4 linked regions of the Homo sapiens genome follow. The protein of the gene in region 4 purifies or fractionates together with the protein of the main gene of each other region. This does not show direct contact. Each region holds a gene or a part of one and is shown on either strand. Other genes may lie near its edges. The genes, in order: CST4, SCGB1D1, LACRT and SLC25A10.

The links.
Region 1: the proteins of SLC25A10 (region 4) and CST4 purify together in Homo sapiens (affinity purification with mass spectrometry; 3 studies listed by BioGRID and IntAct, with this or other methods). This does not show direct contact.
Region 2: the proteins of SLC25A10 (region 4) and SCGB1D1 purify together in Homo sapiens (affinity purification with mass spectrometry; 3 studies listed by BioGRID and IntAct, with this or other methods). This does not show direct contact.
Region 3: the proteins of SLC25A10 (region 4) and LACRT purify together in Homo sapiens (affinity purification with mass spectrometry; 3 studies listed by BioGRID and IntAct, with this or other methods). This does not show direct contact.

Annotation. Positions count from the first base shown.
Region 1 is NC_000020.11:23,686,017-23,692,868, reverse strand, and holds the start of CST4 (cystatin-S precursor), read left to right. Parts: upstream 1-3,830; 5' UTR 3,831-3,899; coding exon 3,900-4,127; intron 4,128-5,667; coding exon 5,668-5,781; intron 5,782-6,852. UniProt on the Homo sapiens protein: This protein strongly inhibits papain and ficin, partially inhibits stem bromelain and bovine cathepsin C, but does not inhibit porcine cathepsin B or clostripain. Papain is inhibited non-competitively.
Region 2 is NC_000011.10:62,185,607-62,193,216, forward strand, and holds the start of SCGB1D1 (secretoglobin family 1D member 1 precursor), read left to right. Parts: upstream 1-4,609; 5' UTR 4,610-4,678; coding exon 4,679-4,733; intron 4,734-6,449; coding exon 6,450-6,637; intron 6,638-7,610. UniProt on the Homo sapiens protein: May bind androgens and other steroids, may also bind estramustine, a chemotherapeutic agent used for prostate cancer. May be under transcriptional regulation of steroid hormones.
Region 3 is NC_000012.12:54,631,889-54,639,025, reverse strand, and holds the start of LACRT (extracellular glycoprotein lacritin precursor), read left to right. Parts: upstream 1-4,130; 5' UTR 4,131-4,184; coding exon 4,185-4,242; intron 4,243-5,792; coding exon 5,793-5,846; intron 5,847-6,644; coding exon 6,645-6,785; intron 6,786-7,137. UniProt on the Homo sapiens protein: Modulates secretion by lacrimal acinar cells.
Region 4 is NC_000017.11:81,708,352-81,715,283, reverse strand, and holds the start of SLC25A10 (mitochondrial dicarboxylate carrier), read right to left. Parts: upstream 3,001-6,932; 5' UTR 2,858-3,000; coding exon 2,765-2,857; intron 2,016-2,764; exon of another isoform or gene 1,778-2,015; intron 332-1,777; coding exon 212-331; intron 1-211. UniProt on the Homo sapiens protein: Catalyzes the electroneutral exchange or flux of physiologically important metabolites such as dicarboxylates (malonate, malate, succinate), inorganic sulfur-containing anions, and phosphate, across mitochondrial inner membrane.

The sequences.
Region 1 (6,852 bases), on a different chromosome or scaffold from region 4:
ACCATGTGTGAGGAGAGGGAGAAAAGAAGGAGGGATGGAGTGAAAGAGACGAGCTTGACCCCAGAGAATTCCAGGCACTCCATAAAGGAGACTCCTGGCCTTCCCATTTGAGAAGTCACCAAATCCTGTGGCTGCTCAGTCCCAGCTCCTACCATAGACCAAACTGTTAGTTGCTCAAAACCCAGATGTGCAGAATCTCAACTCTTGGCCAGCTTGTCCTCACCACTTGAACCTTTAGGTGATGCTTTCTGAGCTTGGCCATTTGTTTATTATAGTATTGTTTAGTGTTCACTTATTATTGGTCATTTATTGCAGAGAACTTCTGCCTGTCACCTAATTTCTCATCCTACTAATTCAGATAATCGGATCAGTAGTCACCATGCAGCCTAGGGGAACACAGCTTTCTCTTTCGTCACCTGGCAGAAGGAAAACATGCCCCCTCCTGGGCAGCTGGACTCCTCCAGGTTACATGGGTGCTGGAGGCCCCAAGCTTGTTCCTCAGTCCATGGTTGCTATCTGGCCCCCTCCTAGTGTGTCCTTAAAACTGTGGACTATAGAAATCAAAGTCTTCTGTCATTTTTTTTGAGATAGGGGTTTCACTGTGTTACACAGGCTGAAATTGAACTTCTAGACTCAAGGAATCTTCCTGACTCACTCTCCTAATTAGCTAGGATTACATGTGCACCATCACACCTGGCTACTCCATCATTTTCAAACATGTTTATACACCGCTACTGAAGTCCGCTCATCTCTGCTGGTCTGAAATCCCAGAAACTATGCTTTAGAAAGTAGCCTCTTTCTCCAGATGCACGACAGACACAACATTTACCTAAGGTCATCAAATATCTGGAGCAGCTGGCCAGCTACCTCAACCTGCCACTTCCTATAACTCCATACTGGACATCGCACTTGTACCTCCTCCTAAGAGCAACCTACATTGGTATCTTTCCTACTGGGATTAGAGAGTTTGCTGCATCAGGACAGCTGACCCTCCCTGCAGTGCATGCCAGAGTCCTGACAGAAGATGACCACTGGTGGTGTCATCACATATGGGGCACAGGTCAGCACTCTGGCCTCCCTCCCTCACACTCCACCCACCAGCACATTCTCGCTATTTGGGTTACCTGCATCTCCTTTCTGATGATTAAAAAAAAAAAAAAAAAAAAAACAAGAGGATTGCTTGACTTTCAGTTTACCCTTTGCACAGCATGTATGTCTTCCTGAGTCTGGACTCCCAGCTGTCCCAGGAAGGTGGGAGACACAGAGGAGAACTAACTCCTACCCTTTGGAGATGACCATTCTGCTCACAAACACCTGGTAAGGGACTTCCCTCTCTTTCCCTTCTCTGGGAATCTCTCCCCATTTCCTGTCTAACTAGGAGGCATATGTAAAGCTCTGTTTGAAGACCTTCCCTCCCTCACCCAGCAGTAAACACCATGGGGACACCTGCTGTATCTGCCAGGCTTCATGGCTATTCTAGGGGTGCTGGATTCACAGTGGGGTGAGATGGTCACCAGGACTCAGGTAACAAGGTTCCCTGTCGTAATACTGAACATGAGCACCCATAAGTAATATGGTTCCTGCTGCCAGGTTCCTGCTGATCCATCCCCAGACATGTCCGAGCCCAGGATGACTCTTGGCCAGCTTGTCCTCATCACTTGCACCTTTACGTGATGCTTTCTGCGCTTGGTCATTTGTTTATTATAGTATTGTTTAGTGTTCTAAACAGGTCTGGGCTGACACTGGCCAACCCTCACCTCCACCACTCCCAAGACAGTCCTCTGGGTGTCCTGCTAAGGCCCAGGGTTTCCTGGAGTTTCTGGCCAAGCCTGCCACCTCCCCATAAGGGCATTTGCCACAGGGTCACCTTCAGGCATGGAGGGTGGGGTTGAGAGAACAACGAGAGCAGCTGTCTGTTCAGAGCCTCCTTCCACCCTCCCCACTCCTGGAGACACATTCCAGCCCAGGCCCACAGCATCCCAAGCTGGGGGCTTTGTCAGCCCACAGGACACCCAACTGACCACATCCTCTCAGTCTGTGGAGAAGGAGAACTCACAGTCTTGGCAATGAAGCAACTCAGGTGCCGCTGGAAAGCCACACTGAGCAAAGGATGAAGACACATCAGGGCTCGCTCTGCAGGACTCCATTCCTGGGAAGCTCAAGGACAGGCGACAAAGGTGTCTACAGGGCCGGATGGGGGCTGCCAGGGTGGGGCGGGCACGAGGGTGGCTGGAGAGGCAGGAGGATACCGTCTGGGGCAAGGCAGATGTCACAGGTCTGGACAAAGTGGTAACACAAGTGTATGCATTTATGAAATCCCCCAGATTGGGCACATACTATTAGGCATTTTATTGTATGTAAATTCTACCTCATTTAAGGCAATTTTTAAAATGCCACGTGAGTCTTCCAAGGAGTGCACAGAGGAAAGGAGCCTGAAGCATGGCTGCCTAGGAGAGAAGCAAGAGAGGCCTGTGGGTTCCCACATTCATCCCGTGGCTGCTGCTCCCTCTCCTGACACCCCCACTGCCTCACAGGGGTCTCCGTGCACCTTCCACCGGTCCTCACCCACAGTTACCGTGAGACTCCAGGTGGTTTCCTCCCTTGCTCACATCCCCTCCAGGAGCTTCCTCTTCCTGGAGCAGGCATGTCCCAACCCCACCTCAGGGCCTTTGCACTGGCTGTTCCCCGCTGCCTGGGGCTGCTCAACCTCTCCAGTCTCATAGAGACCACCCTGACCAGGGTCCAGTGGTCTCTCTCTAGCCCCTGTTCTATTTCACTTCCAACAGAGTGAGTATAACTCCCTGATCCTAATTGTTGATCGTAACCTACCATCCTCTACACACACTGTGTAGGAATTTACTGTGCAGTTCCACAGCCACCAGCCACATGTGCCACAGGACACTTGAAATGGGGCCAGTCCAAAATGATTCCTGGGCTAAGTGTAAAAAATACACAGGGAATTTCAAAGATTTACAAAACCAAAAAAAAAAAACACACATAAACGATCTCATTAATAATTGTTCCCGTTAGCTGAAATAATATTGTGGCTATATTAGGTTAAATAAATATTTTAAACATTACTTTCACCCATTTATTCTCATCTTTTAAAATGCATCTACTAGAAATTTTCAAATGCTTGTGGGTTCATGTCACATCTCTGTGGGCAGCAGCTCTGCAATGTCACCTCTATGGCTCATCATCCAGGTTCCGTCTTCAAGCCCTAGACCTCCTGGCATGGGCAGTAACTGGTGATAGGTTTGTTTATTGAATAATGAGTTATGAAAACAGAAGCCAGTGACCTTTTCCAAAAAGGTTAATTCCCTTAAATTTGGCAAAGAAATTCTCCATATTAGGGTGTGGACAGGGTCTTCTGGAACCTTCTGAAATAACCTCTCTGTTCCAGAGATTCAGAGACCGTGACCAAGTGCTCCTGGAAGCCTCTGATATCTGAAGACCCCGGGAGGCCAAGCCCTGTATTTTTCCCCTTTCTGAGCAAACAGGAAGTCACATTGCTTTCACAGTCAAAGGACCAGTGTCACCTCTGTGGAGACCTGGGTGACTCAAGCTTGGGAGCACTGGGGAAGAGAGGCATGGCTCAGGGAGGCTGCAGTGAGGACTGGAGTGGGGAGGAGGGGGAGATGGAGGAGGAGGCCTGGGAGGGGCAGGGGGAACTTAGGCAGGGAGGGAGCTTGTAGTGGTGGGGGAGTGAAAAGAGAGATGGAGAAAGAGGGGATGGGCAGAAAGAGGAGGAGGAGTCAGGGGCAGGGCATGGAGGTGGGTGGGGCTGGGCTGCCAAAGCAGGATAAATGCACACCTGCCTGCTGGTCTGGGCTCCCTGCCTCGGGCTCTCACCCTCCTCTCCTGCAGCTCCAGCTTTGTGCTCTGCCTCTGAGGAGACCATGGCCCGGCCTCTGTGTACCCTGCTACTCCTGATGGCTACCCTGGCTGGGGCTCTGGCCTCGAGCTCCAAGGAGGAGAATAGGATAATCCCAGGTGGCATCTATGATGCAGACCTCAATGATGAGTGGGTACAGCGTGCCCTTCACTTCGCCATCAGCGAGTACAACAAGGCCACCGAAGATGAGTACTACAGACGCCCGCTGCAGGTGCTGCGAGCCAGGGAGCAGGTGGGTGCTGCCTCCACCCGAGGGGTCCTGAGCCCTAGCCTGGTTTGTTGCCGGACCCCCAAGAGCATTCCAAGCAAATCAACACTGACACATTCATGATCTAATGCTCAGATTCATTCAGCTTTCTCTGACTCTCCGCTGATGCCCTTCATGCCTAAGCATGCTCCCGGTCCATGCACTGCAGACAGTTAAAGGAAGTGCTGCAGCTTCCTTTAACCTGCAGCAGCTGCTGTGTCTGTACCATGACCGTGGCATTTCCCAGCGTCCAGCAGGTGTGGATGGAGACTGTGCTGACTCTGGGTGGGCTTGATGCTGCTCAGGATGAGATCCAGGCGGTGAGGCTCATTCTCCTCCCTGAGTCCTCTCCTCAGGGGCCACATGGGAACCTGGCTCCCTGTTCTGCAGAGCCCTTCTTCCTTCCCCAAGTCATGCCCTTGGGCACAGCCCCTTAGGGCTAGTGGCCTTCACCCTCAGGCAGGCTGACCCACCCCTGCAGGCCAGGATGGCTGAGTCCCTGCTGGGGTGGAGCACGCCTGGCCCTGCCTCTACGAGCTGATGCAGAGTTAGACCTCAGCCAGATGAGGACAGCAGTCACCCAGCAGAGCAGAGGAGGGGTTAGGTCCAGAGTGAGCTTCAGCAGGGCAACTGGGCCCAGCTTGACCTGCATCCCATGGCAGAGCAGCAAATAGTGACACAGCCTTTAGAGCTCCTCCACCTTCTAGAAATTCAAAGGAATCCAGACCAGTCCCGTTTCTCCTCCTACAGCTGTCAGCTGGAGCCCTCACCCTGCACAGGAGGTGCACTCCCTGGTGCCATGGTCCCCGCTGGCCTGCATCTCCCTCTTAAGCATGACAGTAACTTGGAGTGAAGCACAGGGCATTGCAGACCATCAGACCTGGAAGCCTATTTTATACATGGGTAAACTGATACTCGAGGGATCTCAGCAGTTCCTCCTGGTTCCAAAGAGTCCCTCATCCCAGGTTTCTCCACAGCTCTGCCACGTAGTGTCTGGGAGAGGCCCTGTGCAGGGAAAGGGTTCAATTATAATCTGCAATTGTAAGACACTCAGGTGTGCTGCTGACTTGAGAAACGTATCTTGAACCTCACACTTGAAATGGTGGCATCTGGGCGGCCCCATTGACCCAAAATATCTGTGTGTGTGAAGCATCTCATTTCCTACTCTAAGTGAAGTAATAAATCTAGGTTAAATGGAGGGAATAAGATTTTCGTGAGTTAGCTGAAATTTTGTCATCAGACAGCCTTCCTAGAAAAGAGTCAGTGTTCCCTCACCCCTGAGCCACAGGTAGCAGAATTCAATGAATCCTCTTACCCAGCACAGAGAAAACGATGTTTAAGAGCGGGCATGAGGCTCAGCACCCTGCCAGCTGACAGGAAGAGGGGGCTTGTGTGCCTTGTGTTGACATGTGGGCAGCTCACGAAGCCCCCAAGCAAGTCCAGTGACTCAGCCACAGTGAAGTGCCTGTGAGTGCATGAACTGATGGGGGCGCTGTCCGTGCTTCCTGTTTTCTCCTGTGTGCAGACCTTTGGGGGGGTGAATTACTTCTTCGACGTAGAGGTGGGCCGCACCATATGTACCAAGTCCCAGCCCAACTTGGACACCTGTGCCTTCCATGAACAGCCAGAACTGCAGAAGGTACGTTCCTGATGCGGGTCCCGGGCCAGTCATGCACTGCAGAGGGGTGCGTATGTGTCAGCCTCTGTCCTACCCATGTTTGGACGGTGTGTGTGTGCAGGTGGGTATGTGGGGAGCCGTGTATGCATGGATGTGTACGTGTTCATGTACTTATGGGGGGGTGTGCATGTAGGTGTGCATGTGGAAAGGTGCACGTGTGTACACACATGTGCCAGTGTGTGCGGGTAGGTGTATGGAAGCATGTGTGCCTGTGTGTGGGTGTGTGGCGGAAGTATGGGGGTTTGTACATAGATCCATGGGGATGAGGGGTCCAAGTGAGTTTACGTAGTTGCCTATGTGTGTGCAGATGGGGTGGTGAGGGAGGGGGTGATGTGTTTGATTTGCTAGGAAGGCTTTAGCTTGGGAATGGTTACTAGAAGGTCAACTGCCTGCTTTGGGGTGTTGCCTGTTGGACAGGAAGAATCACCTGCGGGGCTGGGTGCTGGGCAGGGAGAAGGGGATCTGTCTAATCCCAGCCTCAGGCACCTGCATGCAGCCAAAGCCACAATCAGATTAGTGGGACCTAGAGGCCTGTTAGCTGGGAAGCCCTGGACCTGCCCGGCTCACCCAACACCAGCCTCTCCAAGAACCTGCTGGTTCTTGTGAGGTCTCCACTCAGGGGAGAGCGGCACTCCCCTTGTTGCCCTTGACCCATGCCCCAGCTCTTTGAGGGGGAGTTGCCCTGCCCTGGGTTCTTCCCTCTGGCCCCTCTTAGTGCTGGCCTGGGTGCTGGAGGTGGAAGGAGCTGGGGGAACTGAGCCACCTCCCCATGTCCTGCACCCTTGGGGCTCCCGAGGCCTTGCCCAGGCTGCTCCTCACAGGGCTGTGATGGGACAGGACACTGCAGGCTGGGGTGGGGGCCCAATGCCACCTGGTGACTTGGAGCCTTGGGAGGGGTAATGGTACAGTCACTACTCATTCTAGTTCAGTGCTCTGGGACTCAGCAGGGGTGGGTGAGGGTGCAGTGTCTCACCTCCATCCTCCTCACCCAGGCTGTGACATCTCATGCCTGGGCATCTTCCCCTTTAACTG
Region 2 (7,610 bases), on a different chromosome or scaffold from region 4:
GGGGGAGCCAAGATGTTTGATTATACTCCACTGCTTCAAGGGAGTGTTATCTCCCCAAGCAACCTCTGGAATGCCGCTGAGCTGTTATGCTTTAGGGGCAAAAAGACATGAAGGCAATAAGGAGACTTTTCTCCTCAAAGGCCACCCATGGCTTCCCATGGGTGTCTCACACAGGGGAGACCAACTCATCTGGCATCCCAGAAACTCTCTTTCCCACAGAGCTGATTAAGAACCATTGCTGGGGAACTAGTGTGGTCATTTGGAGGTAAGACGACACTCTGGCTTTTTGAGTTGCCAGAGTTTTTGTGCTGATTCTTTCTCATCTGAGTGGACTGATGTTCTTTTAATCTTTGAAGTTGCTGTCCCTTGGATGGGCCTCAGCCTCCAAAGTAACTGGGACTACAGGCATGCACCACCGCGCCCAGCTAATTTTTGTATTTTTATTAGAGACGAAGTTTCACCATGTTAGCCAGGATGGTCTTGATCTCTTGACCTCATGATCCGCCTGCCTCGGCCTCCGAAAATGCTGGGATTACAGGTGTGAGCCACTGCACCCGGCCCGGTTTTTTTCTTTTGCATTCTTTGATGCCCTTGAGGGTTTGACTGTGGTATCAGTTGGGTTCAGTTGACTGGGCTTTGTTTCTGGAAGATTTCAGAAGGCCAAGGTTCAGTTCAGTTCAGCACTCCTGGGCTGCTTGCTCTAACCCTGGAGGCCTGGTACCAGGCCCATTGCTTTGTTCTCCGGCCCCTTGAGGTTAAGCACCCGCTGTGCTGGTGAGGTGGAGGTGTTCCCAGTCTGCTGGCAACAACACCCTGCCAAAGCACTTCATCAGAGCAGTGGCAGCAGGATCTGTGCTCATGTGAATGCATGCTGGCAGCTGTGGTGGCAAATCAATATTGACAGTTTTTCTAGTGGATTGTCTTAAATTTCCCTGATAGTTGAATAACTATCTATAAATAATGACCAATTTATGTTCATGGATTTATCTTTTATATGAATTTTGCCCTTTGTTTGAAGAGAATATTGTTAACATCATGTTTCTCTCCATACAATTTTTTTAATTTAAATAGACAAATAATAATTGTATATATATATTTTTCTTTAATTTTTTTTTTGAGACAGAGTCTCATTCTGTCATCCAGGCTGGAGTGCAGTGGTATGATCTTGGCTCACTGCAACCTCCGCCTCCCAGGTTCAAGCCATTCTCTTGCCTCAGCCTCCCAAGCAGCTGGGATTACAGACACCCAGCACCAAACCTAGTTAATTTTTGTATTTTTAGTAGAGACAAGGTTTTGCTATGTTGGTCAGGCTGGTCTCAAACTCCTGACCTCAGGTAATCTGCCCACCTCAGTCTCCCAAAGTGCTGTGATTATAGGCACGAGCCACTGAGCCTGACCTAAACTTGTATATTTTTATGGCATACAATATAATGTTTTGATGTATGTTTACAATACACACATCAAATACAATCAAATTAATTAACAAATCCATCACTTCACATACTTTTTTTTGCATTAAAAACGTTTATTTTATTTTATTTCATGTTTTTAGAGACAAATTCTTGCTCTGTTGCCCAGGCTGGAGTGCAGTGGCATAATCAGGGCTCACTGTAGCCTGAAACTCCTGGGCTCATGCAATCCTCCCACCTCAACCTCTTTAGTGGCTGTGAATACAGGCACCCACCACCATGCCTGGCTAATTTTTAAAATTGTTTATAGAGACAAGGTCTTGTATGTTGCCCAGGCTGGTCTCGAACTCCTGGCCTCAAATGATCCACCTGCCTTGGCCTCCCAAAGCGCTGGGATTACAGGTGTGAGCCACCATGCCCGGCCAAAATGAGAAGATCTTAAGCCAACCAGGGAAGGAGTAGAGCAGTCATCAAAAGTACCACCTATGAAAACTAGAAAAAGCCCCGAGCAGATGTTAAGAGCTACAGGAATGATAAAAATATGTGGGAAGCAATCCTCTTTCAGATATACACATCCTTCCTAATGGAATATACAGATGAAGGCCAAGCCCACATCAGGAAAGCTCTGTTCAACAGCTATGGAAAATTCCTCACCCATCTGTCATCTGTAAGAACCTAAATTCGTGTCCCTGGGTCTGCAGTCTCAGAGACCATGAGCTGGGTTTCCTCCATTTATTTCAGATAGTGGGGGTGTATCCAGGTTTCCTTAGACAGTTGTGTGTCACTTAGTGACTGGGACACATTCTGAGAAATGCATAGGCAATTGTCATTGTGTGAACATCATAAAATGCAGTTATACAAACCTAGATGGCATAGCCTACTGCACACCTCAGCTATTAATAGGTAAGCCTGTTGCTCCTGGACCACAAACCTGTACAGCATATTACTGTTCTGAACACTGTAGGCAGTTGTAATACAATGACAAGTATTTGTGTATCTAAACATATCAAAACAGAAAAGGTGCAGTAAAAACACAGTATTATAATTTTAGGGGACCCCTGTTGTATGTGGGGTCTGATATTAACTAATATGTCCTTATGTGGCCCATGAATTGTAGTTCTGAAAATCAGTGATTTTTTTTTTTGAGGGGTTGGCTGTGCTTTAAACTAGGAACTGGTAATGATCCATGAAATGTATGACAGGTGGGACAAGGTAATAGTAGTCAACATTTATTGAGCGTTTACTACATGTCAGACCTTGTTAATTTTTTTTTCTTTTTTGAGATGGAGTTTTGCTCTTGTTGCCCAGGCTGGAGTGCAGTGGTGCCATCTCAGCTCACCACAACTCTGCCTCCCTTGTTCAAGAGATTCTCCTGCCTCAGTCTCCTGAGTAGCTGGGACTATAGGCACATGCCACCACACCCAGCTAATTTTTTGTATTTTTAGTAGAGACGGGGTTTCACCATGTTGGCCAGACTGGTCTCAACCTCCTGACCTCAGGTGATCCACCCGCCTCGGCCTCCCAAAGTGCTGGGATTATAAGTGTGAGCCACTGCGCCTGGCCAGACCTGGTAAATTTTACACACACACACACACACACACACTCATTTGAACATCTATCAACCCAATGATGTAGGCACCATTTTTAACCTACTTTTACAAACGAGAAAACTGTGTTTACATAAACTAATTTTCAGAGGGTTCAATAGCCCATAGACATGGATCTGAACCCTCCTAGCCATGGGCTTTGCCACTGGACCTTCCACTCCTTAGGGTTGGAGGCAGAGGTGGCATCAGGGGCTTCCCCACCATTTTGGGTGATGGAAGTGAGAGGCATTGTCGCCCTCAGCTGGGACTCAGCCAGACCTGCCAAGGTGTCTCTGATGACACAGACCATAAGGTCCGCTTCCTTCATAAAGGTCTTTCTGGGTGGTTCTCAGTACTGCTGCCCATCAGACCCACCAGAGCAGTTTAAACAGAAGAGGACCTCGCCCTAGAACTACTGAATCAAAATCCCCAGAAAGGGAAGCAGCCTGCGGGGAGTCAGTATAGTTTAAGAGCCCCAAGTGATTTGATTGCAGAGCAGAGAATGGAAAGCTCTGGCCTGGGCTGTGACTGTTCTCAAATGTGTGTTCACTTAAGAGCCAAATTTCTGGTGATTTCCTACTCACCAAATGATGGCACTGCAGTGGAAGGGCAGAAGGGTGTCTATTGCTTTTGCTGGGGATGGCCTTCGCTTTCCATCAACAATGAGATGACCCAGGCAGCAGAGCTGGGTTAGAAGTGGAAAACTTGAGCCCAGAGGTTAGAGGGAAGTGACCACCCACCCTGTTCATCCATCTCTTCCTTTCCATTATCGTCCCTGCCTAGAAGCGAAGACCAGTATTTCTGATGCCTGTTTGCCTCCAGACACCCCAGCAGCTCCTTGGGTAAAAAAAGTTGGGCAATTTAATCATCCCATCAGCCCTATGAGGAGATATGGGTGGCTAGAGGTCACTGGAGGCTTGCTTTTAGTAGACAGAAAATTTGAACCTGTGCTATGTTGACAACTCCACCCATAAATAAAGACACAGATCTTGGAGTGAGACAGAGTAGAGGACAGGGGGAGTGGTTGTTTTCCCCAAGGAAATCCTCCAAAGGTGGGGTGTATGCAGCTATGTTTTAGGTACCTATGTGGTGAAGATGGTGGGGATGGAAGGGGCTGAGTGGGAGGATAGGTCTGGTTCAGACTTGATCTATGTGCAGCTGAAACACGTGTGGCTGATTGTCAGACATGCAGTGGAGGTCAAAGTGGGGTCTCTTCTGTGCCTGCTCTCCTATAACCAAACCACAGCCCCTAGCTTCCTGCACCCCCGGTTTCTGTCCTCCTGAAATGAGAACTCACATTTGCCCTTGCACTGACATAAAGAACAGAGAGATAATCCTCAAAAGCCCAAAAGCAAACTGAGGTTCCAGGGAACATTGCCAGAGGCACCTGGACACTCACCTGGAGCACAGAGCAGAGTTTCTGCAGGGCTGCCCTCCCGTGCTCCGCCCCACTCAGGATGCAGGGAGGTGTGGGGATGTGACACTGATGGATGGCAGCAGCCCTGGCTAGGAAGGGAGGGCTGGAAGCCAGGCCTCATCACCTGCCAGATGCCCATGTGGGCAGGACCAGCCAGGCTCCCTAGGTACAAATAGCCCTGGGCTCCACGGCTCCACAGGCTCCCGGGGCTGAGTCTAAATCACTCATCATTGGTTAAAGCCGAGCTCACAGCAGAATAAGCCACCATGAGGCTGTCGGTGTGTCTCCTGCTGCTCACGCTGGCCCTTTGCTGCTACCGGGGTGAGTACATCAGTCATGAGTCCAGCACCAGCCCTTGGGACACACCCTTCTCTGAGCACGAGGTCACCTATTAAGGTTAAGGTTGGGGTCTGGAACAAACCAAAATTCCAAACCTTATCCTGTGCTTGTTGAAGGAACTGCTCATAAAGCTCGGGCCTCATTTCATCAAATCCCCAGTACCTAGGAAGTTTTGCAGAAAATCAATGCAGGCGAACGTTAGGAATTCTGCCTGAGCTTCACTCTTGGATGGGATCTGTGTCAGATGATGTAATGTGAGGTCTGGGGTGACTCTGGGCTCAGCCACTTCTCAGCCCTTTCACCGTGGGCAAGATGCTCACCCTCCCCGCGCCTCCTCCTATCTCTGGTGCTTAGAGCTTCTTCCGGGAGTGGCAATGGGAATGGAGTGGGATTATTGTGCCAAGGGTCTAGCTGTGGATGTGAAGCCAATCACTGTACTGTCAGACATTCTCGTCCCCAGACCTTTAGGTGCCAATTGAGCTCACAGCTTCTTACATTGTAAATTCAGACTCATAAAATGTTACATCTCGAAGGATCCTTGGAGAACTCTCAGTCCAAGAAGAGATGGTGCTTTCTGATTCTCTCAATAAGAAGCCTGCAAATGAATTCTTAGAATAAGCAGCACTCAATATATCTTCTAGGGGTCCTACCGTAATGGTGGTAGAAATACTACAATGGTTAGCCTCAGAACTTCTATTTTTCTAAAATTAATTCTGGCTGATTTTTCCCCAGTTCATTTGGGTACTTTCCTTTCCCCTGTCAGGACCGATCCAGACTCTGATTTTTCTCTTTCCTCTTCTTTTCTGAACCTCTCCCTGTTTCCCTGTGACACCCCGATCCTACCCTCTCCAAATTCTCCCCACAGTTTGAAGTCGGGTAGTCAGGGGTCATGTTGAGCATGGTGGGGCGCTTTCTGGATGCATGGTGTTTGCAAAAGACTTAGGTGAATGGAGATTCCAGACCAAGCAAAATGATTACTCCAGGTCTTTCCAAAATTCCCAGTGGGAGCAGGAATGAGCCTCAGTTCCCTCCTCTCATCCTCTCCAAATATTCTAGATGCTGCTGCAGAATATGGGCCAAGTACAATTTCCTGTATAAGCTTCTAATGTGTGTTAAAACTGATTCACATTATTTTATTTTGTTTTAATTTGTTTACCTTTTAGCTCTGTCTGTATTGAATCACATAAGCCTAAATTCTACAACTTGTTCTCAAAACATCACCTTCAACATTTCAATAATTTTAACTTCTTCTGTTCCAGATTTACTCATTTCTCTAATTTCTGATAGGATTCTGACTCTACCATTCCACTTCAAAATTTGATTACTCAAAGCCTCCTCTTCACCAATGTCCAAGACTAATAAAGTGTCACTTAACTGGCATAGAAAAGTGATTATTTTCAAATCTAGAAAAGAGAACGTTGGCCATCCATCCAGAGAAGCTTTGGAAAGTAATGAGTGTGCTTTAAAAAAAAAACAAAGACTGAATGAGTGATCAGGAAGTTGGTTCTCCAGTTCTAGCTCTACCCTTTGCTGTGTGACCTCAAGGAAGTCACAACCTCCTGGGTCTGACATTGTCATTGGCATAGTTATTGAATAGAAGCCTAAAACCCTGGGGTTCCTGTCTGGTCTGACATCAGGGAGGCATGGGAGAAACACTGATTTCCTTACACAAATTATATTTTTATTCTTTTGCTCCAGCAAATGCAGTGGTCTGCCAAGCTCTTGGTTCTGAAATCACAGGCTTCTTATTAGCTGGAAAACCTGTGTTCAAGTTCCAACTTGCCAAATTTAAGGCACCTCTGGAAGCTGTTGCAGCCAAGATGGAAGTGAAGAAATGCGTGGATACGATGGCCTATGAGAAAAGAGTGCTAATTACAAAAACATTGGTAATTTCTGTCTCTTTCATGTGTCCAGGCTTCTGGTCAGCGGCACAGTGTGAAGTGAGGTCAGCTTGCTTGCTGCTCTGTGAGGGACACAGGTGGTGGGGCACCTGCCTTACTGGTCACCGCTTGAGAAGGTCACCTGGGACCACAGGGTGGGTGCTACCATTTCACCTGCAGAATTCAACTCAGCTGCACACAGCCTCCTGCATGTTCCTCCTTCTCAGGTCACCTACCTGGATGCCGTGTCCCCAGAGTGTGCTGAGGACATGGGGAGTGAGCCTGGGTCCAGGCAGGGGTGGTGAAGGGCCAAGCACAACTGTCTCTCCACCTGGGGACTTTCCTGAGGCCAAGTGGACCTCACACAGTCACTGTGGAATGTACTGGGGAGTGTGGGAGCCTTGAACAGGGAGAAGAAGGCAGGGAGGGACCTAGAGCAGGGGCTCCTGCAGATGCTGCGCTGGAGGGCTGGACTTCTCTGCAGCTTCTGCAGAACCAGGAAGGAGCCCCTCCCAGCTCCTCAGACTCCACGCTCCCCTCCTCACCCACGATGCTCTCCTGACCACGGCCAGTGGGCCAAGACCCTCGCTACTCTACCTCCTGCAGTGCCATGGAAGCGGGATGTTCTCACTCTGTCTTTCTCAAGAAATCAGAGGTTTTCCAGGGGCCTCTCAGCCTGGCTGCCTCTGGGTTGCTGTCCTGAGGTTTAGCTGCAAATGCTCATGGAAGCTGCAGGCTCAGGATTGAGGTGCTCAGGCCCTGAGGCAGAATTCCCACATGGGGAGGCTGGAGTCTCCTGGAAGCCAAGCTTCCCAGAGGCCCTCCCAGCCCTGACCAACCTCTCAGCACTGGGTCTTTCATTGCGGGGAACAGGAGACTCCAAGTCCTGGGACAGCCCAGACAATAACCTCTTGCTGCTCTGCTCTGTCCCCCCTCTATGAGGACCCTGGGCCTTATGCTTGTGTCCCCCCAGGGCTAT
Region 3 (7,137 bases), on a different chromosome or scaffold from region 4:
TAAAAGCATTCCTATTTCTCCACATCCTCTCCAGCACCTGTTGTTTCCTGACTTTTTAATTATTGCCATTCTAACTACTGTGAGATGATATCTCATTGTGGTTTTGATTTGCATTTCTCTGATGGCCAGTGATGATGAGCATTTTTTCATGTGTCTGCTGGCTGCATAAATCTCTTCTTTTCAAAAGTGTCTGTCCATATCCTTTGCCCACTTTTTGATGGGGTTGTTTGATTTTTTCTTGTAAATTTGTTTAAGTTCTTTGTAGATTCTGGATATTAGCCCTTTGTCAGATGGGTAGATTGCAAAAATTTTCTCCCATTCTGTAGGCTGCCTGTTCACTCTGATGGTAGTTTCTTTTGCTGTGCAGAAGCTCTTTAGTTTAATTAGATCCCATTTGTCTATTTTGGCTTTTGTTGCCATTGCTTTTGGTGTTTTAGTCATGAAGTACTTGCCCATGCCTATGTCCTGAATGGTATTGCCCAGGTTTTCTTCTAGGGTTTTTATGGTTTTAGGTCTAACATTTAAGTCTTTAATCTATCTTGAATTAATTTTTGTATAAGGTGTAAGGAAGGGATCCAGTTTCAGCTTTCTACATATGGCTAGCCAGTTTTCCCAGCACCATTTATTAAATAAGGAATCCTTTCCCCATTTCTTGTTTTTGTCAGGTTTGTCAAAGATCAGATGGTTGTAGATGTGTGGTGTTATTTCTGAGGCCTCTGTTCTGTTCCATTGGTCTATATCTGTTTTGGCACCAGTACCATGCTGTTTTGGTTACTGTAAGCTTGTAGTATAGTTTGAAGTCAGGTAATGTGATGCCTCCAGCTTTGTTCTTTTTGCTTAGGATTGTCTTGGCAATGCAGGCCCTTTTTTGGTTCCATATGAACTTTAAAGTAGTTTTTTCCACTTCTGTGAAGAAAGTCATTGGTAGCTTGATGGGGATGGCATTGAATCTCTAAATTACCTTGGGCAGTATGGCCATTTTCACGATATTGATTCTTCCTATCCAAGAGCATGGAATGTTCTTCCATTTGTTTGTGTCCTCTTATTTCATTGAGCAGTGGTTTGTGGTTCTCAGGAGGGCTTTTTTTAAAAAAGGTTCTTTAAGGAAAAATGTATCTATTATTTACAGAGATTCAAGTATGGACTAGCAACAGCAGGAAGTCTGAAGCAGCGTGTTGGGGGGTGGGGGTGAATAATGTCACCTGACAACAAGAGATGGCGCTCTGAAACAGGGACCAGACAGAAGCTGCAGTCAGAGAGAAACAGCCATTGCCACACCATGCTGCATTAAGTATCCGTGGCTGTAAAAATTATTCAAACATTTGGTGGCTTCACACATGATTTCTTATCCACAGTTGTTATGGATCAGCAGTCCAGGTACAGATGCGCCCTCAGACACAGAGTCTCTAATGAGGCTGCAGTCAAGGTATCATCGAGGCTGCGGTCACCTCAAAACTCAGCTGAGGAAAGACCCACTTCCAAGCTCAGTCACGTGGTAGCTGGCAGGGTTGAGTTCCTCACAGATAGCTGGACTAAGGGCCTCGGCTCCTTACTGGCTACAGGCTGGAGGCTGTCCTCGGTTTCTTGCCACGTAGGTCTCTCCACAGGACAGCCTCACACATGGCCACTCACTTCATCAGAGCAAGCTGAGAAGATCCAGAGACAGAGTGTGTGTAAACAAGACTAAAGTCATAGTCTCAGAACTGACTACCTCATCACTTTGCCATCTTCTATTTGTTAGGAGTGAATCTCGAGACCCAGCCCAGTTAAGCAGAGGAAATTACAGCAGGGCACCAATGCCAAGACGTAGGCATCACCAGGAGCTATCTCTGAAGTCGTCCTACCACACATGCCAAAGCAAGAGAGGGAGCAGGAGGAACAAATGCCTTAATCTCTCCCTTTTCCCACCCTCCCATCTCCCACCTGTGTCTCCCATTGGCCAAACTCAACTCGAAGCTAGAGGGCATGGGAGCCCAGGTGATACAGCCCATAGAGGCATCCTTCCAGACCAGTGCAGAGATGAGAGAGAATAAACCTGAGGCAGAGGGGAGAGAGGTACAACGAGCAGCCCATGAGACAAGACACAGATCAGCGAACTGACAGTCATCATGGAGGTCAGATAACCTAGAAAACAAGACATCACACAGAGCAGCCCCTCACCCATATCCATGAGGTCCGTCAAGACATTGCACAGAGCAGCCTCTCACCCATATCCATGAGGTCTGCCTCTTTAATCTATGCACCCAATTCTTTCCCAGGCTCTATAATTTGGGGTAACATTTCTCTGGGCCCTGTTATAGAATAATGAAAATTTTCTATAAAACAAATGTCCTTACTTTCACCTCATCCCTATTTATGTAAATGCTTGCCTCTTTAATTACTGAGGCCAGGAGGAAGATTTGGGAGAGGAAAGGGCTATGCGGTGACATTTGGAAAGACCCTGCTCTGTGACAGTTCTAGTGTTGACGCCAAAGTTCTCATTTCCTCTTAGAAAAGTCTTGTGCAAATAGCATAATTTGCTCCTGTTGACTTTTTTAATGTGCTCATGGAGACTGCTCGGGATCTAGATCTGTTTGGGATCTGCAGGACTTCTCCTTCTGCAGTGTACACACACGTGCACACACGTATGTGCACATACCCAGGGCACTGGTGCCATCAAAACTTTCTCTTGTTCTTCAGCCTTCCCCATTCCAGGTAAGGCCACCACCACCTTCAAGGCTCCCAGGCCCAGACCCTCAGGCAGGTAGCAATTGCCAAGGCTTTAATGTCCCACCCCATTAATTTTATCTTCCTTTATCTCCTGAAAAGATTAATGTTCTAAACCCTGGCACCCAAAACACCCTCATGTTGAAAACTCTTCAATACCCCCTTCTCACACTCATCTTCAGAGCTACCATGAGGCAGAGAAGCCTCCGGAATCAGCCCACATGGGGCTGGGTGAATGCCAACACCAAGCAAGGGGAAAGTCACAAATTGACATCCAGCACCTTATTCTCCACCCTTCAGCCCCTCAACTGACTCCTGCTCCACGGCCCGTTCTATTAATATCTAGCATTTAGCACCAGCCTGGACAAAAACCTACTTGGAAAGATGGTACAAGAACCCCACACAACTCCATAGAACTTCGCTGTCTAAAAAAATGCTTTGCCGTATATTATCCCACTTAATCTCCACCACTATGCTGTACATAGGAGCCACAACTCCTAGACAACAAATAAAAATCCTATCACTTTTCAAATCCTAACATTTTCATATGACAAAGCCAGAACTCAAAATCCAGACCTCTAGAGTCCCAGATCAGGAAAGGAAGAAACGCCAAGTCAAAGAGAAGCTTCTTTAGAATAATCTGCTTTTCTGGATTATTCACACCATGGGTCAGCTCCCCACTTGAAGTCAGAACCAAGCTCCAATTTCAGTGAACCACCATCATGCTTTGACCAGGAGATTCTCTCAGAAATGTGGGGTCCCATTGAGTAGGCCTGAAGACAGAGATTGACAGGCCTATGTGAGCCTGGAGGAGTTCTTTTTAGGGGCTGGATAATGTCAAGAACAGAGAACAACTCCAGAGAAGGCACACACGCCTTCAAACCCATCCCCTCATGGGGAGAAAGCAGCCAGGAACTCAGGCCTCAAGTGTTCTAGGTGTGGTCTCCCAAGGAAACGGGCTCACTTAGTTTGGGGAAACCTTCAAACCCTGCACTGAGTCCTATGTAGACTGGGACAGAAGGTGGACAATGTAATCCCCTGAGCCCTCAACCTCCTCCTGGAGAGATGACAAGATTAAGATTTCTCTACCAGAACCCTCAACAGACACATCCCAGAATCTCCCCAAGTGAAATGTGCTCTACCTACCGTCCCTGAGAGCCCAGGGGTGTGAACCCAGAGGGCAGGTGTGGTGGGGAAGGGAGGAGGGAGAAAGAAAAGGGATGGCTGGGAGTTAGAGAAAGGCTCCTATCCAGGACCTGCCTGCAAGGATCCCAGGTATCAGCCAGCCCAACCTAGCCCTTGTTGACTTAGCAGGTGACAGTTTGGGGAAGAAGGGGAGGAGGATGCGGAAGTCACACCTCTCCAGGCTTGGTTCCCATTGGCCCTTGATATCCTTAAAAGGGCCCAGCAATTTCAGCATCCTTATTCCCCAGACCTTCTGCAGATTCTGTGGTTATACTCACTCCTCATCCCAAAGAATGAAATTTACCACTCTCCTCTTCTTGGCAGCTGTAGCAGGGGCCCTGGTCTATGCTGGTGAGTATGGCCTTTCCTCTGCGCCCCACAAGAGTCCTCCCAGTCCAAGGAGCCCCTCACTCCTGCCTTCACCCCTCTCCTCCTCTCTCAGTGCTATTCTGGTTTCCCTGCCTCTGCAAGTGACTCCTCTCCCAGTTCTCCACACGTGGCCTCTGCACCCCACTGGCCAGAGGAACCCAGAACTCTCTGGCCTCTGCCTGCCCTCCCAGCTCATCTCCTCACACACCATTGTTTACCCACTATGCCTCAGCTACACTGGCTTCTCTGGTGTCCCCTGCATGTAGTTGAGCAGGGTGTCCCCTACACGAGGGTGCCCAGGCAAGGAGTGGTAGAAGCTAAAATCTGGCCGACACTCTACTTGCCAAGCAGTGAGCCTGGCCCCTGGCTGTGTCTCTTAGGAGGAAGGGATGCCTTTTTTTTTTTTTTTTTTTTGAGACCGAGTCTCCCTCTGTTGCCCAGGCTGGAGTGCAGTGGCACGATCTCTGCTCACTGCAACATCCACCTCCTGGGTTCCAGCGATTATCTTGCCTCAGCCTCCTGGGTAGCTGGGACTACAGGCTCATGCCACCTTGCCCAGCTAATTTTGTATTTTTAGTAGAGACGGTGTTTCACCATGTTGGCCAGGTTGGTCTCGAACTCCTGACCTCAGGTGATCCGACTGCCTTGGCCTCCCAAAGTGTTGGAATTACAGGCGTGAGCCACCGTGCCCTGCTGGGATGCCTTTTTTGATCCACAGAAGCACTATTTGGGCCATGATGATCCTGCTGTTCCTTGAACATCAGGATCTTCCTTCTTGTCCTTTCCTCGTCTAGAATGCTTTCCCTCTCCCTGGCCCCTTCCCCCAACCAACTCTAATGTCACCTGGCCAATGATTTTTCATCTAGAAAATCTCAGTTTACATATAATTCCCCAAAAAGGCCTTCCATGCACATGCGGAACAAATCAGATCCATGTGCCCTTCTCGCACCAGGCTGCACGTTCCCTTCCAGCACTGTCACACCAGCCATTAAATAATTTCGTAAAAGGACAGATGTAAGCTCTGTCAGGGCAGGGGTCTTGTCTGCCCTCTTCAGCACTGCACCTCCATCTCTTGGCACAGAGCTTTGCATAAATGTTGTGTTGAAAGAATAAAGGGAATCAAGGCTGGGGTCTCAATCCTGCAAATCGCTCAAATATGGCCCCATAACCCCCACATACTGTCCTCCTCCACCACAGAGGAGGTTGAGCCCCTCTGACCATGGCCAGCTCCATGACAGACACCTCAGGGAAGCCTACCAAGCCAGGGGCCAGTCAGGAGGAAGGCACTGTTCCAAGAGACATTACACTTCTCAGAGGGGAAGTTATTTCAAAAGCCACAGGAGTTAAACATCAGAGAGTGCCCCAGTAGACCCGCTGATATGGTGGAAGGGCATGTCCAACCCAAAGGGAAATTGATCCCCTTCTATCCATGAGCATTCCCAGGAGATAAGCTTTGGGAATGGGAGGGGAGGGTGGCTCGAGTAGGTCCGGTTCGGTCCTTGCTCTCATCTGGCATGTTTCCCCCATTGCAGAAGATGCCTCCTCTGACTCGACGGGTGCTGATCCTGCCCAGGAAGCTGGGACCTGTGAGTCCTCCTCTCCCTGCTGCCCTAGCCCTCGTTGGGAAGGTTTAACAGTTAGGGATGTGAGTGGTGGCTGGGAGAAGAAGCCAGTGGGAGGAGATCTGGATTCTGTGCTTGGTGGTAATGGGGAGGGGCAGGTAATATAATAAAGAAGGTGGCATGGGTTGAAATGGTACAAGGCTAAGGACAAAAGAGGATGACCCAGAGAGGCAAGGACAATAGGGAGCATGGGGAAAAGGTTATTGTGAATAAAAGGGAGAGAAACATGAGGTTAAGTGGTAAGGGCAATGTCTCACATGGCATTAATACCTTCACCTGCAAACACCTCCCATTACTCCCAATTCCTTAGCAAGATAACCATTATCTGGCCTCTAACCTCATTTTCCAACCCCATTTTCCATGACTCTCTTTTATGTCGCACCCACATCAGCTAAATTGAACTTGTTTCCATTCCCCACACATGCCTTCGCCTGACCTCTTACTCACTGCCTGCCCCCAGGGAAGCCCCTTTGGTACATCCTCTCCTGCTAACATCCTGCCTTCAAGATCCAGCTTCTCTATGAAGTGCTCCCCGATTCTCACCATCCCCTAGTCCAAATCCTTCCCCAACCCTGCCCGCTGCATTCCAAGAGACACACAGCATGCAGAAATGCTATCTCCCTTAAGGGGGCAGCGTTTAAGCCATATCACTTCTGTATCCTGGCACCCAGCACACATTAGGTATCCTGGGGCCCTGCAACCCATTCCAAAAGAAACAAACACTTTCACTTTGCTAAAATCCATCAATTTGTGCATTCACAGCTAAGCCTAATGAAGAGATCTCAGGTCCAGCAGAACCAGCTTCACCCCCAGAGACAACCACAACAGCCCAGGAGACTTCGGCGGCAGCAGTTCAGGGGACAGCCAAGGTCACCTCAAGCAGGCAGGAACTAAACCCCCTGAGTAAGTCTCTGTCTCTATGCCAGATCAACAACCTAGAAAAGTCTCTGGCTGCAGGCCCACATCACACCTCCACGCACAGAGATAAGCCTGGTGAGAAGCAGGTAGACTCAAACAGCTGAACACAAAGGCACAAATGGGATTGTGCATTGCACCCACACACAACGTTTTCACAATAGTAGATGTTGCAGCCTGCACAATACATGGTTTCTGTCCTGGCTCACACAACTTCCTATGAGAGAAGTGCTGGAGCCCTCAGCAAAACTTCTGCACTTTAGGACTTTCTGTAGGGATGATGTCCTGGGTGGAGTGGGGGTGGGGGGCGGGTGCAGGTGGGGCAATGCAGAGTTCTCTT
Region 4 (6,932 bases):
GGCCTCAGCTTCCCCACCAGTAAGTGGCGGTCTCAGGCCCAGCCCTGCAAACTGGGTGGGTGCCCATGGGAGGCGCACCCTGGGGTCACCAGCTCTCGGCCTGGTGGGTCCTTCCTTGCACAAAGTCTTGAAAAGGGGACGGAAGTAGCTTGGATGCCACTGCAGGACTCAGCCCCAGTCTGGGAGCCCAAGGCTGGCACACACCACGCACCTGTCTGCACAGCGAGGCGCTCAGGCCGCTGTAGAGTGCCAGGATGCCGTCGGTACGCACCACCCGCAGCGCCATGCCCGTCATGCGCAGCTTCACCTCCTGCTGCGTCTGCAGATGCACCTGCGGGAGTGAGTGCTCTCAGACCCCACAGCGACCCCGAGGGATCGGTGCCAGGTTCATCCAGAGAGGGGGAAACTGAGGCAGGAGGCAGTGATAAGGCCTCCCACGGCCCTGCCCGGGGACTCCACACCCGTGCCTGGAACCAGCTCACACCACTGCTTTCCAACAGCAACCACACCAGTGGACATGGAGCTGAGAGTGTCCGCGAGCCCCGCGAGCGCCCCGCGTACCACCTGAGTATTGGCTGCACTGGCCGCAGGGGCTCGCCATTCTCCTTCTGCAGATGAGGAAACTGAGGCATGGAGAGGTAACGCACCCGCTGGTGCCATCAGGATTTGGGCCCAGCGAGGAGACCCCAGAGCCCTACTTTTTATCCACCACACCACGTCTCAAGAGGGACAAACGTTTATGGCCGCTCAGAAACGGCGAGGGAGCCTGCAGGACCATGGGAGACTGAGGAGGTAGCCATAGAAGGCCTTGAAAGGCAGCAGGAGCTCAGCAGCAGACAAGGGGACGGTGTGGCTGGCGGCAGGGCATAGCGGCCTCCTCTGCAAAGCACCTAGGAGCTGTGGGCAGGCACTCGGGGGCTGTCAGCCCGACAACCTCCCATTCTGTTGGCCTCCACCACTCACAGGACCTCTGCCTCCTCGCCTGGCCAGCTGAGAGCTCCCGGCAGTAGGGGGATTGGCCAGGGCCAGACAGGAAGGCCAGCACCTGGCCCAGGATCCCAGCTCCTGGGTCCCACCCCCAGCACTGACCCCAAAGAAGTCCTTCCGCCGCTCAGTGTGACCTGCACGTGCGCGGCCCCGTAACGCACGCCCAGGGGTCGGCAAAGATGGGTGGGGACAGAGAGGGGCCTCCCATTGTGCGAGCCCAGCAGAACAGAGGGACTGGGCCACACAGGTAGCAGCCCCCGTCCCGGCCAGATGCGACGGTAGGGACTGTAGGGACATGGGACAAAGTGCTCAAGAAGCTTTAAAAGATCTTTCCGACGGCCAGGCAGAGAGGCCTGGTGAGCAGTCCTCAGGAGCACACCCTGACCACAGCGCCATATGCTGCCAGCAGCTGGCTCCTCCCGCCCTCCCAGGCCAGAGGGCAGTCCCGCCTCCCCCAGGCGGTGTTCTGCAGCCAGAGAGCGCCTGGTTGGGGAGGGCCAAGGGGCAGTGGGGCTCAGACCCCGGACAAGGGACAGCAGCACGCAGGTCCCGCCTTCAACACCCAGATGAACGTGGGAGAGGCCCTGGGGGAGGGGCACCTGTGCGGCGCCCAGGAGGAAAGGAAGAGCCCGATGCCAAGGAGGGGCTCGCTTCTTCTGCCCATGCCAGCGCCTTCCTGTCGCTGTGGCTGCATCTCACTGGCCGTGGCTGCCTGTGGCCTGGGAGCTCTGAAGGCCTCTCCCAGGACCAGTGAGGTCTCAGGTGCCCCAAGACGCCCACATCTGCTCACCTGGCCTTCACGCAGCGACCAGCATTGTTGCTCATTAGTAAAGCCAGTCCCCTCAAAGGCTGCTGGAATACAAGTCCCCTGGACAGGCTGCTAAAATAAAGGTCCCCTAGACAGGCGGCTGCCCAGTGACCACAGCCAGGTTCACAGGGCAGGGCCTGCTGGGCAGACTGTGCAAAGCCTCAGGCCCTTTCTTCTTTGTTCTCTGTGGCAAGACACGGTCAGAAAACAACGCCCCTTGGCTGTCCCTGGGAAACAAGGAGAGCTCTGTCTTATTTTGCCCCATAAGCATTAAAAAAAAAAAAAAAGTAAAAAAACGGTGGCTGCTTCTCGTGCTGAGAAACGCCCGCTTTCATAGGGCCAGGACCACACGCGTGCAGGGTCTCCTGGCATCTCTCCTGGGGGTGTGCTGGTCCTAACATCGCTTCCAGTGCCCACGCAGCTCTCCGAAGGAAGCAGCCCAAAGCCGGGGCATCGGGTCACCCCACTTGCCCAGGGACACGTCCGGCGGTGTGCTAAACACCCCTGGGTGGGGGGCGGCTTGGCCCACACCCTGGGTATGCTACAGCCAGCACGTCTCTAGATGCCAACACCTGTGCACCTCACAGAACTCCCCCCACAACTTCTAACTAGGCGGAAGGAGCGTTCTTGAATGTATGGGGGTGGGTGGCTCAGAGAGGCCAAGTGACTCCCCCAAGGTCACCAGGTATTAAAGTGTAGAGCTGGGGCTGGATCGCCACCTGCCGAGAACTGGGAAGCCGGCTGGGAAGCTGGGGAGCGCGGCTGCGCCCTGCAGGCCTCGAGCTCGGCGGCCACCACTGGAGGGCCACCCGGGATCGGCCATCCGGGCGTCGGGGGCCTCCTCGCGCTCTCCAGGAGGGAGCCCCGGGCGCGGCGATCCCCGGGTGCGTGGGGCCGGGCTGCTGCCTTTGCAGGCGTCTCGGCGGCGCCAGGGTCCCATCCGCCCCGCGTCCCGGGCCCCGGCCTCACCTTGAGCAGGTCCAGCGGGTGCGTGCAGCAGGCGGCCCCGCAGGAGGCCAGCCCCCCGAAGTACCAGCGCGACACGCGCGCCTCGGCTGCCATGGCCCAGGAGAGCCCAATCCCGGCCCGACCACAACCCGACCCCGGCCCTACCCCGGCGTGTACCGGCCGCAGCGCCCCGCGCCCCGCGCCCCGCGCCCGGTTCAAAGCGCCGCCCGCGCGCCCGCACCCCGCACAGCCAATGCGCGCGCGCGCCCCGGGGGCGGGACCGCTAGGCCACGCCCCCTGCGATTGAGGCGGGCCCGGCGCCTTAAAGCGGCCGCGAGGGGCGCCGAGCGCGGTGGGCCCGGCCTGCGGACGCGCGGGTGCTCCGGGGCTGCTGCGTGGCCGCCTCCACTCCCCCGGGCCCCTGGCGTCCTCCCTTCTCCAGGCCGGAGCGCAGGGCCGAAGGCCACCGCCCGGGGACCGGCCCCAGGCACATGGGACCGCGGCGGGCGCCCTGCCAATCCCCAGGAGGCCCGGCCCCTGGCCCTGAACCTGCACCCGGTGGCCACCCCGCCGCGCAGGCGCTGGCTCGTGAGTCACCTGGCGGGGGCCACGTGTGTGCGGCGTGGGCCCTGCGTCCACAGGTCTGCAACCCCTGCCCCCACCGAGGGCTCAGCCCCGGCCCAGCTGCAAGAGAACAGAAAACCGGCTTCGGGAGCCGGGCGCGGTGGCTCACGCCTGTAATCCCAGTTACTCAGGAAGCTGAGGCAGTAGAATCGCTTGAATCCGGGAGGCAGAGGTTGCAGTGAGCTGAGATCGCGCCACTGCACTCCAGCCTGGGCGACAGAGCGAGACTCCATCTCAAAAAAAAAAAAAAAAAAAAGAAAAAGAAAAGAAAAAAAGAACCTGCTTGGGGCCAGACTGAATGAAAACTGGGAAAAAAGGCGGTTAGGAAGGACTTGCCTCTCCCTTCCCACACACAGATGCCCGGAAGCTCCTGCTCAGTTCTGGTCTGGCTCTGACCAGACGCCCCAGGCAACCACCCTGGAAGTGGGGCCCCGGGGTGGATTCTGGGGCTCTTGTTCCCAGGAGATGCCTGCCTGCATCTGGGCCCCTGCTTGGATTCCACTTCCCTGCGAAGAACAAGGAGGCGCTGGTGTGTTCCTGGCCCAGGTGCACCTGCTGGGCAAAATGAAATTTAAGTCCCCAAGGCTGCTTTAGGGCTGGGCCACAGGGATGAAGACCTGCAGCTCCAGCTTGGTCACTGCTGTCCGGCCTCCCCCACCCTCCAGGGCGAAGGGTGAGGAGCACCGGAAAAACAACTCGTGGTCCCTGGAACCCCTCAAGCACCAGAATGTGTCCAGCCCTGCCTCTGCGCATCCAGCGATGCCCTGGCTGTGTCGGAAGCGCAAGACGCACACTTAGGATTTTCAGCTTGGCTGTGGGTTTATTGGGCCGTAACCCCAACGTAGGCAGGTAGCCAACTGGAGGAGACTGTTTTCTAGACCCTTAGGTGGCCTCTGACCCCAGAAGTCATCAGCGGAAGATTTGGGCTGGGGAGTGAGCAGCTAACCAGAGGCGGTACCCCTGCCCGGAAGTGTGTCCTGGACCTTGGTTTGGTTGGGTCCCTCAGGTGTTGCCCACACAGACCGTAACTACCTGGCAATCGAGAAGGGTGCCAGATGGACACTGGGGGTGAAAACACAGCCACGCCTGGTGGGGAAGCGGGTGGAGGTGCTCAGGAGGCAACCAGGAGAGTGCAGTGCAGCACTGCCCGCACCAAGCCTGGGCTGGGGCTCAACAGGAAGCGTGGAGATGGCGCAAATGCACCGCAGGGACTCAGAGGGATCACGCTGGGCTTAAAAGGCCCAGAGCAAACAGACTCAACCGTTAGGAAGCAGGGGAAGTGGCCCGATCTTAACGGAAATTTCCCAGCAAGAGGACAGGCTTCCTTGTCCGGGGCCATCCAGGCTCACACCTGACTGAGTCCCGCAGACTTGGCTGTGCCCACAGCGCCTGTCTCACTCAGTGTAAACCGAGATGAGTTGCATCCATCGGCTCCCGATTACCAAGAATCAAGAGGCGATGGATGGAAACCTTGGGGGAAGCAGGGCCTGGAGGGCCAGTGTCCCCTGAGTCTGTGAGACACTCCAGGAAGGAGGGGGGCGGGCCTGGGCTGCAACCTGTCCCTCCGAAGGCCACCTGCAAGACAGGGCTGAAACTGGCTGCTGGCAGAGACCCCCCAACCCACAGAACACTGGCTCCCTGCTGAAGGAAGAACTGCTCCAAAGCAGAAAGAGCAGGGCCCAGCGGGTAAGGAGCAGGAACTGAAGAGCTTTACAAAGAACAAAAAAGGCTGGGCAGGGCAGCTCTCACCTGTAATCCCAGCACTTTGGGAGGCCAAGGTAGGAGGATCTCTTGAGGCCAGGCGTTTCAGACCAGCCTGCGCAACACAGTGAGACCACATCTCTAAAAAAAATCAAAAGATTAGCCAGGCATGATGGCACGTGCCTATAGTCCCAGCTACCTGGGAGGATGAGGTAGGACGATTGCTTGTGCACAGGAGGCTGAGGCTGCAGTGAGCCTTGATCAGGCCACTGCACTCCAGCTCGGGTGACAGAGTGAGATCGTGTCTATATTAAAAAATAAAAATAGGCCAGGTGTGGTGGCTCACACCTGTAATCCCAGCACTTTGGGAGGCCGAGGTGGGTGATCACCTGGGGTTAGGAATTCGAGACCATCCTGGCCAACGTGGTGAAACGCTGCCTCTACTAAAAATACAAAAATTAGCTGGGTGTTGTGGCGGGCGCCTGTAATCCCAGCTACTAGGGAGGCTAAGGCAGGAGAATCGCTTGAACCTGGGAGGTGGAGGTTGCAGTGAGCCAAGATCGTGCCATTGCACTCCAGCCTGGGTGACAAGAGCAAAACTCACTCAAAAAAAATTAAAATTAAAAAAGATAAAAATAAGGTTCAAGACCAGCCTGGCCAACAGGGTGAAACCCTATCTCTACTAATAAAAATACAAAATTAGCTGGGCGTGGTGGTGCATGCCTGTAATTCCAGCTTCTTGGGAAGGTGAGGCAGGACAATTGCTTGAACCCGGCAGGTGGAGGCTGCAGTGAGCCAAGACTGCACCACCAGCCCAGGTGACAAACTGACACCGTTTCATAAAAATAAATACATAAATAAGTAAATAAAACATTAAAAAAAATAGAACAAAAGTGCAAGGAGCTGTAGGGGACTGAAGTTTGTGAACTCCGTGAGCTAGAGATGCTGGGAGAGCAGTCAGAAGGCGAGGAATCCTGAAAACAGGAAATGCATCCAGGGCCAGAGGCTTTTTCAAATGATGAATCTAGAACTGCAGGTCGGGGACTCACAAGGATCCCTGATGGATTCTCAAACGGATCATAAGTTATGTCGGTAGGCCCAAGGGGGTGGTTGGGGCAGACTGAGCAAGCTCACGGGACAGGGCTCCCCGTCCAGCCTCCGACTGCGGCCTGGCATCCACCGCAGTGTCCTGCTGCTTGGCATCCACAGGTTATTTTGGGGGTCCCCCGGCAGGGAGGAAAGGGCCTCTCGGTGGCTCCTGCGAGTGGCCTGGCAGACGCCTGAGCCAGGGTAGACAGCGAGGAGTCGCGGGCAGAGATTTTGCTGGTCTATCTGGCCTGGGTGCAGCCTGGATGAAGACAGCATGTCTGTCTGACCTCAAGCAGGGCTCGTCCCTGAGCTCAGATGTTCGCTGCCTTCCAGAGGGGAAAGGCAGTTGGGGTCAGCAGGGCACCAGGCAGAATGCACCCAGCTCCAGGTGGCAGTGTCACCTCCTGAGGGAAGACCATTAACCCCTCAAAATGGATACCATGGCCAATGGGGACTTCCAGGCTTGGCTTGGGACAGCCTTTCCTGGGGACAGCAGGTTAGTCAGAGAAACTCTACCAGAAGGCCTTGGAAGAGGACCTGGGCCAGGCAGGGTGTACACGCACAGTGAGCCTGAAACTCCCTGCCCCTCCCGCTCCCCCAGGAGTCCCAGCCAGTGGGCAGCTTCCAGACACACGGTGCCCCTTTCTGGTCCCATCCAAGGGATCCTTCCACCAGGAAAACTGAGGCTGGAGGGCATGGCAGCCTACGGGGCCATCACACCAGGCATGTTTCCCGAAGCAGGTGCGGAACATGGCCTGTCTCTGGCCTCATTGTG